2 separate regions of the Homo sapiens genome follow, and region 1 is linked to region 2. The links come from fine-mapping of genetic effects on gene expression. A gene starts in region 2. The other region holds a variant in brackets. All regions are shown on one strand. Distances are between the middles of the regions. Region 1 overlaps WEE2 (WEE2 oocyte meiosis inhibiting kinase). Region 2 holds the start of WEE2-AS1 (WEE2 antisense RNA 1).

Evidence for each region. PIP is the estimated chance that this variant, and not a neighbour inherited with it, causes the effect.
Region 1: its variant is the best candidate, but not a certain one, in a credible set for the expression of WEE2-AS1 in thyroid (GTEx, PIP 0.87).

Annotation. Positions count from the first base shown.
Region 1 is chr7:141,714,288-141,719,669 of GRCh38, forward strand. WEE2 (WEE2 oocyte meiosis inhibiting kinase) reads left to right here. Exons shown (of 12, transcript NM_001105558.1): 2 at 1-118; 3 at 1,935-1,980; 4 at 4,785-4,957. All of the region lies in intron 3 of WEE2-AS1 (WEE2 antisense RNA 1), which reads right to left. Among named protein-coding and RNA genes, the nearest start is that of WEE2, 8.6 kb to the left of the region's middle. RefSeq lists a silencer at 828-1,028. The variant C/T (reference allele first, on the strand shown) is at 2,349.
Region 2 is chr7:141,735,614-141,740,995 of GRCh38, forward strand. It overlaps WEE2-AS1 (WEE2 antisense RNA 1), which reads right to left and starts at 2,429. Exons shown (of 4, transcript NR_199841.1): 1 at 1,770-2,429. SSBP1 (single stranded DNA binding protein 1) reads left to right here and starts at 2,745. Exons shown (of 7, transcript NM_003143.3): 1 at 2,745-2,797; 2 at 3,511-3,577. The coding sequence starts at 3,554. RefSeq lists an enhancer at 1,762-2,647.

The sequences.
Region 1 (5,382 bases), 21 kb before region 2:
CTCCCCTCAAGGATGAGATGACCTCATTGGCTCTGGTCAATATTAATCCCTTCACTCCAGAGTCCTATAAAAAATTATTTCTTCAATCTGGTGGCAAGAGGAAAATAAGAGGAGATCTGTAAGTGCTCTATTACTTATGACTTTTGAGAACTGACCCTACTACAGTCAAGTAGTAAGAAGTGAGTGTTAAAGTAAGATTAGGAACGAGAACTCTATTTGAATGAAATGTATATGCTTACATATTCTCCCCTTCCTAGATATCAATGCTGGTTTTACCTGCTTTATCACAGAGATTCCAACATCTTTCCATTCTGATATGTACTGTAGATGCTTTCTCTATAAAAGGATAAGACAGAATAAGCAATAGATCTCTGGCTTCTATTAGGAAGTTGAGTGGGCTATGGAATTGCATTCAAGGGGTCCCCTCTGGTTAATATGAGGCTGGCAGTTGGGGAACGTGTAGCTCAAACTTCAAAGAGTACGTTGCTGCTTTGAGTCTTGTGTGACTAGTGATGAAAGCTATAGAGCAAGGATTTGAACTTCTCTGTGGGTGATGGAAGATTGGCTGAAGCAAAAAAGCATTGCTTTCAGAGCTGCTAAAGAATAGAAAGCCAAACTGTACTATTCCATAAAGGGCCCTGAATGACAGAAATCATCCAAATAAGGATTGTGCATATTACTCAGGAACATTACTATGTCTCTCCAAGGCTTTTTTATAGAATGGAATCGCCTCCAAAGTGGGGCAGTCATTTATGTTCATATGTACTCAGCGAAATAAATGGACAGCTAACAATGTAAACTTTGCAGAGCATTTAATGTGCTATGTCAAGTTGTTTCTTTGGAGTCAATGAGTATGTGTTAATCAGTCTTTGACCAGAATAGGTTCTCTCAACACTATCTCCTTCTTACTTAAATAAACAGGACTTCAGCACAAGTCCACCCACCTACTTTGGCTACCAAGAATTCGATTGGTTTTAGTTCTTAAGGAGTCTCTGTAAATCATTATACTCTCACCGAAGCCAGCAACAAAGACAGCTAATATGAAATCCTGACACTTTTGTAGCGTCATTTGGTGCTTCTAAGAGAGTATTTTTCCTTATTTTTATAATTTATAAACACTTCATAAAGTATTACAATGTGGTACTAAATCACAAATACCAAGCATTGATTTATTTCCATGAATGTAGTGCCTTCCATTTGCCATTTCTACCTTGTGTTTCTCCAAAAGAAAAATCTATAGCTAGTTGAAATCTTGCTTAAGGATCCAGAATACAAGTATGCATGGCAAAGAGGATGTCTGCTGGTCACTTAGCTTATCGAAGAGTAATTGAAAATATCTCATCCCGGGTTAGAGCAGATTCTGCCCTACTTGCAGTCTACCTGTGAACCGATTACAAAGCCAGATTCTAGGGGAGGGGTGGGTGTCGGAAAGAGAGTGTGGTGTGGCAGTGAGGAGCAAATGCTTTGGTGTCAGACCTGGCTCCAAGTCCCAGTTCTGCCACTTGCTAATTGTTTGACCTAGAGTTATTTAACCTCTCTCTGTCTTGGTTTCCTAGTTTGGGGATAAAGATACCCATTTAACAGTTGCACATATGTTCTGTGCTCTCTTGCTCCAGCACATGGTGTTTTACCTGCTGAAAACCTCACTCTTTTCCCTTAGCTAGTTCCTACTCGTTCCCAGAATCTTGGCTTATATATTCTCTCTTCTGGGAAAGCTTTTCACTCTTGAAATAATTGAGTGCTGTCCATGGTATCCTTGTTATCTTATCCAGTTCTAGGTTCTTGTATTGAAATTTCCTGGTTATCCCTGCCTCCACATATAAACCGAAGAGAAATGAATTGTCTTATTTACTCTTACATCCCTAGAACCTAGCATAGTTCGGCCTCAATAAATATTAATTATATATTGATAAACTTTTTTTTTCTTTTTTAAGTGAGGAAGCTGGTCCAGAGGAAGGCAAGGGAGGGCTGCCTGCCAAGGTAAGCGTAGTTCTTTGTCCCAGCGGCCACAATATAGGCAGTTTATCCTATTCTTTCTCTTCTTCCCCTCCCCTTCTCCCTCTCTCTCCTCCCTCCTCCCTTCTTCCCTACCCTCCCTTTTCTCCTTCCTCACCCTCCCCTCCTCTCCTTCACCCTGCACCCTCCCTCCCCTTCTTCTACCCTCTCCTTCTGCCCTTCTCCTTCTGCCCTCTCTTCCCCATCTCCCCTCCTCCCCTCCTTTCTCCTACTCTCCTTCTCTCCTCCCCTCCCCATCTCACCCCATCTCACACGCTAGCTTTGTAAATGTGCTTTGCAGCTGAATTTATCTGGACCCTAGTCAGGGTCTGTGTTCTCAGCTAGTTGTAACT[C/T]TGCCAGGCAGTGTCTGATATGTATATGCTGGATCATTACTTTAGAGTAATTTTAAAATTACATATTTCTGCTACTATTTTAATCTGGAGAAAAACTCTACACTCATGGGGTAGAGAAGTGAAGGGAAAATTAAGATATTTTTGGTCTCAAAATAGAAAAAGATAATGGAAAAAAGGGGCATAGAGCCAGAGATTTATATGTAAAATTTTAGCTCTTAAATGTATCAATATTTGATTTTATAATGTTCACAATCTTTGATCCATCCCTCATTTGATAATCTAACCTAAGAAAATAATACTGCAAACATTATCCTTAGAGATGTTTATTGTAACAGCAAAAAAGGGGGGAGACCAAATGCCTGATAATAGAAAAATGGCTAAGCTAATTACAGTTTTAAGTCAGTGAAATACTAAATTGCCATTAAGATGTTTATAACACCTTGAAAACATGCGTATGTTAATGTTTAGTGTGCAAAAGACTCAAAATTTTATACGCTGAATGACCATAACTATCTATTGCACATTAATCACAGGGAGAATGAAATGGAGCTATAACCACTGCTATTTCAACATTTTTGAATGGTGGAAACTTCATATTTGTTTTTCCTTTAAATTTTTAAAGTTTTCTGAAGCAAGTTTTATTTGCGTAAATAAATATGTTAATATGTTAAAATGTTAGCACTTGGCTATTGTAAACATCACAGAAAAGGCGGCCACTGGCACAGGTGTTCCTTCAAATGCAAATGTTTCTGACTTATGCCTCCATTATTTTACTGTTGGATTTTATTCCTCACTTATTTTATAATTTATCTCTTGATTTCAGATAGAAATTCTAATATTTATTGAACATTAAATAAGTGCAAAGCATTGTATTTAGTTACACCCTTTAAGGAAAAACATCTGGCCAAACAGGAGTTAAAACCTTTGAAATTTCAAAACAATCTATATGTAAATTAGAAGCTATGAGATATATGTATTTGTGTATATGTGTATGTACATATGTGCAATGTGAATATACATATGCGTGTATATCTTTAAAATCTAGAAGTGGTTAGTAAATACTTCTATGAAATAGAGCTTGGGTAGGAAGAGATTGTATATTAAGATAATTTTAGGCTAAGGAAGTAAATAACTTTTAATGCTATCAAGGCAGGAGAACAGAGTTCAGGTGTAAGAGGGGTATGGTGGGTGGGGAGTGGTCAGGGATAGATGCAGATGGTATACTGGCTTCATTGGTATCTAGGGGGAGGGTAGTCAAGTAGTGAGTGCGCAGTTGGTAGAAGGTCTTGAGGCTTTCTTATCAAGAGTTTGAATTTCTCATGGGAAACAATTAGGCATCTCTGATTCTGTGGTATCATTTTGCAAAAATAATTCTTACTATTAGAAGAGTTAAAGAGAGGGCTGGTAGCTGTAGCCAATCCAGACAAGAAGGGAACAGAGCTTGAGACTGGCTAAGGGTAATGAAAATTAAGAGATCTTGCTGATGAAAGTGACCAGAATTAGATGTTGAAAATGAGGAAGTAGTAAAACCCAAGATTTTTCAAACTCATAAAGTTGGAGAAAAATTCTTCAGGATTGGGACACTGAGAAAAGATGACTTTGGGAGATAAATCAGCTTGGATTTAGATTCATATAAATTTATGGAGATTTTTGGTCATAATAGTTTAATGAGAATTTACTATGTACTTGACACTATCCTAAGATATATTACAATATATGTAATACTGTATATTCTCATGTAATATTTAAAAGAACCCTGAAGAGTGTTGCCATGATCTTCATCCTACAGATAGGAAAACTGAAAGGAGTTCAGATTGGCCTGGGGTTATTTACTACCTGGGCAATGAATGATGTTGCTAGTTGGCCAGTAGCGGGAGTGGTTGCTAGACCTGAGCACATAGTCTGAACTAACCAAAATTGTCAAAGTTTGACAATTTTGACAAAATCATTTCTCCAGGCTGGTATTTTTGGGAAAAGAAACAGAAAACAAGTATGCTTATTCAGCTTGAGATGGAAACATTAGCATTCAGACTTTAAGACACATAAAGAAGGGGGGTCTTTCATTTCTTTTAATTTGCTCCACCCAGGTCCCAGTTATTCTTTGAACTAAGGACAGTAGCTCTGGGAGTGAGAAGTTGTGTCCCCTTAGGAACATGTAGAAAAGAACAGTATGCCCAGATAGAGAAAAGAATATTGAAAAATAAGTGAGAATTGTCAGTATAGGGTTGTACAGAAGGTTACAAAGAAAACAAAGAAGATAGTCAGCAATTGGGGAGATTCTTGCTACCATGAATATTGACCCAAGTAGAATTCATTGCAGTCACCTCAAAAGTCTTTTTGAAAACTTGGAGCAACTTAGGACTGTAATACTGTTTAATTTTATTGCTTACAACATGGTAGAATTACTCTAATTTCCTTTTTATTAAAATACTTTAGAGATGTGTTTTACGAGAAACCAACATGGCTTCCCGCTATGAAAAAGAATTCTTGGAGGTTGAAAAAATTGGGGTTGGCGAATTTGGTACAGTCTACAAGTGCATTAAGAGGCTGGATGGATGTGTTTATGCAATAAAGCGCTCTATGAAAACTTTTACAGAATTATCAAATGAGTGAGTACCTTTGAAATGCACTAAAAATATAAACTTAGATTTGGAGAGTTGTTTCTTGTCAAATTATTTTAAATTAAAGCACCGATGTCATTAAAAATCATTTGTGTTTTAAAATCACCCCACATTATATGTTATCTCATATTCATAACCTTTCTGAGTTTTCCAGCTCAGAGATGTTACTTCCTAAAATACAACACGATCATTTTAGATCATGATGTGTTTTTGTTTGTTTGTTTGTTTTCTGTCACCAGGCTAGAGTGCAGTGGTGTGATCTTGGCTCACTGCAATCTCCACCTCCTGGGTTCAAGTGATTCTCCTGCTTCAGCCTCCTGAGTAGCTGGGACTACAGGCGCGCACCACTACACCTGGCTAATTTTTGTATTTTTAGTAGAGACAGGGTTTCACCATGTTGGCCAGGATGGTCT
Region 2 (5,382 bases):
TTGAGACGGAGTCTCGCACTGTTGCCCAGGCTGGAGTGCAGGGGCACGATCTCAGCTCACTGCAAGCTCCGTCTCCCGGGCTCTCGACATTCTCCTGCCTCAGCCTCCCTAGTAGTTGGGACTACAGGCACCCACTACCACGCCCAGCTAATTTTTTGTATTTTTAGGTAGAGACGGGGTTTCACCGTGTTAGCCGGGATGGTCTCGATCTCCTGACCTCGTGATCGGCCCGCCTTGGCCTCCCAAAGTGCTGGGATTATGGGCGTGAGCCACGGCGCCCGGCTGCCTGGCTAATTTTTGTATTTTTTACAGAGACAGGGTTTTGCCATGTTGCTCAAGCTGATCTTGAACTCCTGGGCTCAAGTGATCCACCCCCTCAACCTCCCAAAGTGCTGGGATTACAAACATGAGCTACTGGACCTGGCCAAAATTTTTTTAATTAAACATTTTTTTTTGTTTTTGTCTTTATTTTTAATTTTTGTGGGTTCAAAGGAAGTGTATATATTTATGGAGTACATGAGATATTTTGATACAGGTATGCAACGTCAAATAAGCACATCATGGGGGATGGGGTATCATCTTAATTTATCCTTTGAGTTACACACAATCCAATAACACTCTTATTTTAAAATGTACAGTTAAGTAATTATTGACTATAGTCAACCTATTGTGCCATCGAAAATAGTAGGTCTTATTCGTTCTATTTTTTTGTACCCATTAACCATCCCCACCTTCCCTCCAGCCCCCCACTAACCTTCCTAGCCCCAATTTTTAAAAATACATAAGTACACATATACACAGGGGTGCATATTCTTCCTTGTGCCTCAGGCTCCAGTCTGGCTTGGATCCTGTATTCAGTTAAAATTTTAATACAGTCATGCACTTCATAATGATGTTTTGGAAAAAGACTGCATATACAACAGTGCATATACAAAGGTGGTCCCATAAGATTACAATGGAGTTGAAAAATTCCTATCGTCTAGTGACATCATACCTGCTAAAACATCAGAATGCAATGTATTACTCATGTGTTACTTGATATTAATAATGACTATGTCACTGGTTTATGTATTTACTATACTTTTTATTATATTATTATTTAACTTATTTTTTAAAAGTTAACTGTAAAACAGCCTCAGGCAGGTCCTTCAGGAGGGATTCCAGAAGAAGACACTGTTATAGGAGATGACAGCTCCCTGTGTGTCACTGCTTCTGAAAACCTTCCAGTGGGACAAGATGTGGAAGTGGAAGGCTGAGATTGATCATAATGACCCTGTGTAGGCCTAGGCTAATGTGTGTGTTTATGTCTTAGTTTTTTTAAAAAATGGCTAAAAAGTTAAAAAAAAAAAGAAAAAAAGCAAAGGTAGAAAAAAGCTTGTAGAATAAGGATATAAGAAAAATATTTTTGTACAGTGGTACAGTGTGTGTTTTAAGCTAATTGTTATTACAAAACAGTTAAAACGTAAAAAAATTTGGAAGATTTATAAAGTTATAGTGAGTGAAAGTTTATTAAAGGAAGAAAAGTATTTTTTATAAACTGAGTGTAGCCTAAGTGTACAGTGTTTATGAAGTGTTTAGTGGGTACAATAATGTCCTAGACCTTCATGTTGGGCCACCACTCACTCATTTACTCACCCACAGCAACTTCCAGTTCCGCAAGCTCCATTCATGGTAAGCGCCCCATACAGGTGTGCCATTTTTATCTTTTATACCGCATTTGTACTGTACCTTTTCCATGTTTACATATGTTTAGACACACAGATACTTACCATGAATTACAATGGTCTGCGGTATTCAGTACAGCCCCATGCTGTCAGGTTTGCAGCCTGGAAGCAGCAGGCCACACCACAGAGCCGAGGTGTGTCCAGGCTCCACCATCTAGGTCGTCAAAGTACATTCTGTGGTGTTCGTACAGCAACAAAATCGCCTAATGACGCAATCCTCAGACCTTACCCTGTTGTTAAGGTACACATGACTCTTATTTTGTTCCTCCCGGATTTCCTGCATTAATTTTTACTTTTTAAAATATTACATTAATATATTATTTGATTGCCAGTTTTTCTGGTGCTCCCTTAAATTGCACAGCCTGCCAGCCCTTCCCTGGCTCCCCTTTCTTTTTCTGCTTTTCTTAGTGCTTCAACAGACCTGGGACGTTCTTTTTCTTTCTTTTTTTTTTTAATTTTCTTCTTTTTTTCTTTTTCTTGTTTTGTTTTGTTTTGTTTTGAGATAGAGTTCGCTCTGTTGCCCAGGCTGGAATGCAGTGGTGCGTTCACGGCTCAATGCAGCAACGACCTCCAGGGCTCAGGCGATCCCCCGACCTCAGCCTCCGGAGAAGCTTGGACCACAGGCGCGCGCCACCACGCCCAGCTAATTATATATTTTTTGTAGAGACAGGTCTCACTATGTCGCCTAGGCTGGTCACAAATGTTGCTTTTTTTTCCCTCCAGGCAGAGCTAGTCTCTGTTTTGCCTACCTCGCCCCCTCCTGGGCCCAGTTAGAAACCTCATCACATAATTTCATTTCTTTCCAAACTTGAAACCTTCTAAACTTGAAACCTTCTAAACTTGAAACCTTCCAAACTCACCACTTGGCGGCGTTGATCCATCCGCCCGCGCACAAAGAGAAGATCGCGGAACTTCAGAGTTAAGGGGAGCCGTTTCCCGCAGCGCTAGCCGGCAGTATTTCCAAGGCGCAAGTTGCGGAGTTTCTGTTTCCTTTTTCCTCTGGCGAGCTTTGCGTTCCCTGTGCGCCGGAAGTGATCCCCTGCGTGGCTGGGCTGCTCGGGTTAGATCGTCAGGTGAGGGAGGAAGGGATAGCCAGCGCGAAGGAAGTGCTGGAGTCGTGTGTTTTGGCTGCGCGTGATCCTGCGTGGGTCGGGAGGTGTTTCTGTGTAGGTGTCTGGCCCTTTCATCAGTCGTGCGGAGGACCGCGTGATTTCCTTCCAGTTCTCCTCGGTTTTCAGGTGGTGGCGCCATCTTCGGTAAAGGGTGTCCACCTCTCCCTATGGTGTGGCTGGCTAGCCCGGGGGTCTCTACGCTGCTTGGTCTTTGTTAACGGAGATGAAGGCAGTAATTTTTCAGTAACAGGTTTCAGATATAAGTCCCTTGGTGATGCTAATATTTATGGAGGCCTTACTATGCATTAAGAACTTTTTTAGAAGTTTAGAAAATGGCAGTGAATAAAGCAGATACAAATCTCTGCTCTAAGGGAGCTTGCATAGTAATGAAATTTGAGAAGACAGTGGATTGGAAGTGGGATTAACTCAGAATCAAAATTTTGTCGATGGGTTGGAGGAAGAGGAAGTTATTTGGGACCAAAAAGACATACAGGTGTGAGTTTATTTGGGAGGGAGGAAGGAATCCTCATCAGATGTGCAGGAATGTTGGTACGTTGTGGTCACAAAATTGGAGTGCATAAAAATTATGAATATAGTTAGGAATTTAGGACTGGTGAGTTGTACTTTTGCCATAAGAGGTAATGTTTTTTTCTTATTTTGTTTTTTTCCTTCAGGAAAAGCCTAAAGATTAGACTGTAAGAAAAGAAAATAGAAGCCATGTTTCGAAGACCTGTATTACAGGTAGTCACTTGTCTGTATTAATACTGAGATGTATTACTATCAGCCACAGTGATCAGAAGACTTCTTTAGGCTTTTAACTACAGGGGCAAAAGACCTTTGAGCTCACCCACCCACCTCTATACTCATTTGATATGGAGGATTGGGGACGATTTTGCCAGTGTAAATTATGTTCACTAAAACAAAAAAAAAGTTCAGGTTTATTCACACGTAATAGGAATCATTAATTTTTAAAATGTGTGTGTGTTGCTTGAATTTAACCAGTGAGAGGACATTAAAGGTCTTTAGTGACCTAAAGACTGTAGGAATCATTGTTCCAACTTTTTTCTTAAGGCATGTAGTTGCTTTTTTGACCATCTACCTCCTGTGTTGCTAAACGTTCCTCTTCCCCCATCTTTCCACACTGAAGAGAGCATCTCAAGTCTCAGTGGTCACCAGAGATTTCACTATGTAGAAAATGCCTTCTCATTCCACTTAGTATGGGTCCTCACTTTTCCAGACACTAGCCCACCTTGAGCCAGCTTAGACTACCATTTTTCCTCACTTACCACATTCGGGCACCAGCTCCTGTAGATTCTTCTTTGGCTCTCCTACTCCCCATCCTCCTGTGAAGACCAATGAAGAACCAGTTCCTCCATGACTCTGTCATTTTCCCCACCTTAATCCTATATTCTTGGATCCCCACTTTAACCTGTATGTATCTTTAATCTATTTTTTTCTGTATTGAAATGTGAAACATGAAAAAGTTATTGCTTCTTAACACTAACGTTACAGTATTAAAATGTCTTTAAATAAGAGTTAAAAGTTTAATTTAAAAAATTATCCAAGTTAAATAATCCTTTCCTAATCTTCTCCAGTAGATTTTTGTGTGCCCCAAATGAGACATTGTTATTATAAATCTCTGTGTAAGATTTATGAGGTCTAGCTTGTCTGAGCACTCAAATGACATTTCCAGAATCATGACACAGGTTCTCATTAGCAGTTTGATTCTATAGTATGTTGTACTCATATCTTTATTTTCTTATCTGCCCTCTGCTCCTAAGTTTAGTGATAGGATTAGATAGCCAACAGCACCCTGGGGATTGGTGTTTATTTGATTGGTGGACTTCTGCTTTTTATATTAACAGTACTGCCACTTCAAAAATGTTTCTCTGATAGAATGGCTAGCTCTCTGAGCTCTGAATTCAGTGATGTGTACTCCCATCTTTACAGGAGCTCTTGAAATTAAGGAGGCAGCAGAGGGCTTCGGGAAAGCAGTAGCATTGGTGTCAAGGGCCCTGGGTCCTTGAGATCACTTGCCACATACTTCCTGCAGGAGCTTGGGCAGGTGATGCAGTCTCTCTGAGGTGTTTTCTCAGCCCTAAATGGGAATAATTTTACATAACTTGTAGATTTAGTTTTAGAATTGATAATAGATAAATCCCTTAGCTGATATTCAGTAATGATTGCTGCTATTATGTGGTAGTGACTACCTTTGCTGACAGTGATGTGACTTTGACTTGGACAGTCGAGTCTTTGTGTTTAATCAAAGAACCAAATTTATTAGACCTTTTTTGATGCACTAAAAACAGGAAATTTCCTATGAAATATTTATAAAAACTGTATTAGGCTAAGCTCACTACTGAAGCTGTTTAATTTTTGCAATAGCCTTGTGAAGTAGGTATTATGTATCATAATTTTTGCTTATTTTAAAATGAAACACTTTAGATTAGTCATATTAGGTATCCTAATTCCTTTTAAGGTCTGAAGGAGCAACCAGGGGAAGGCAGTTTCATAGACACAGGGAATCTGACTTTGGAATATGTTCC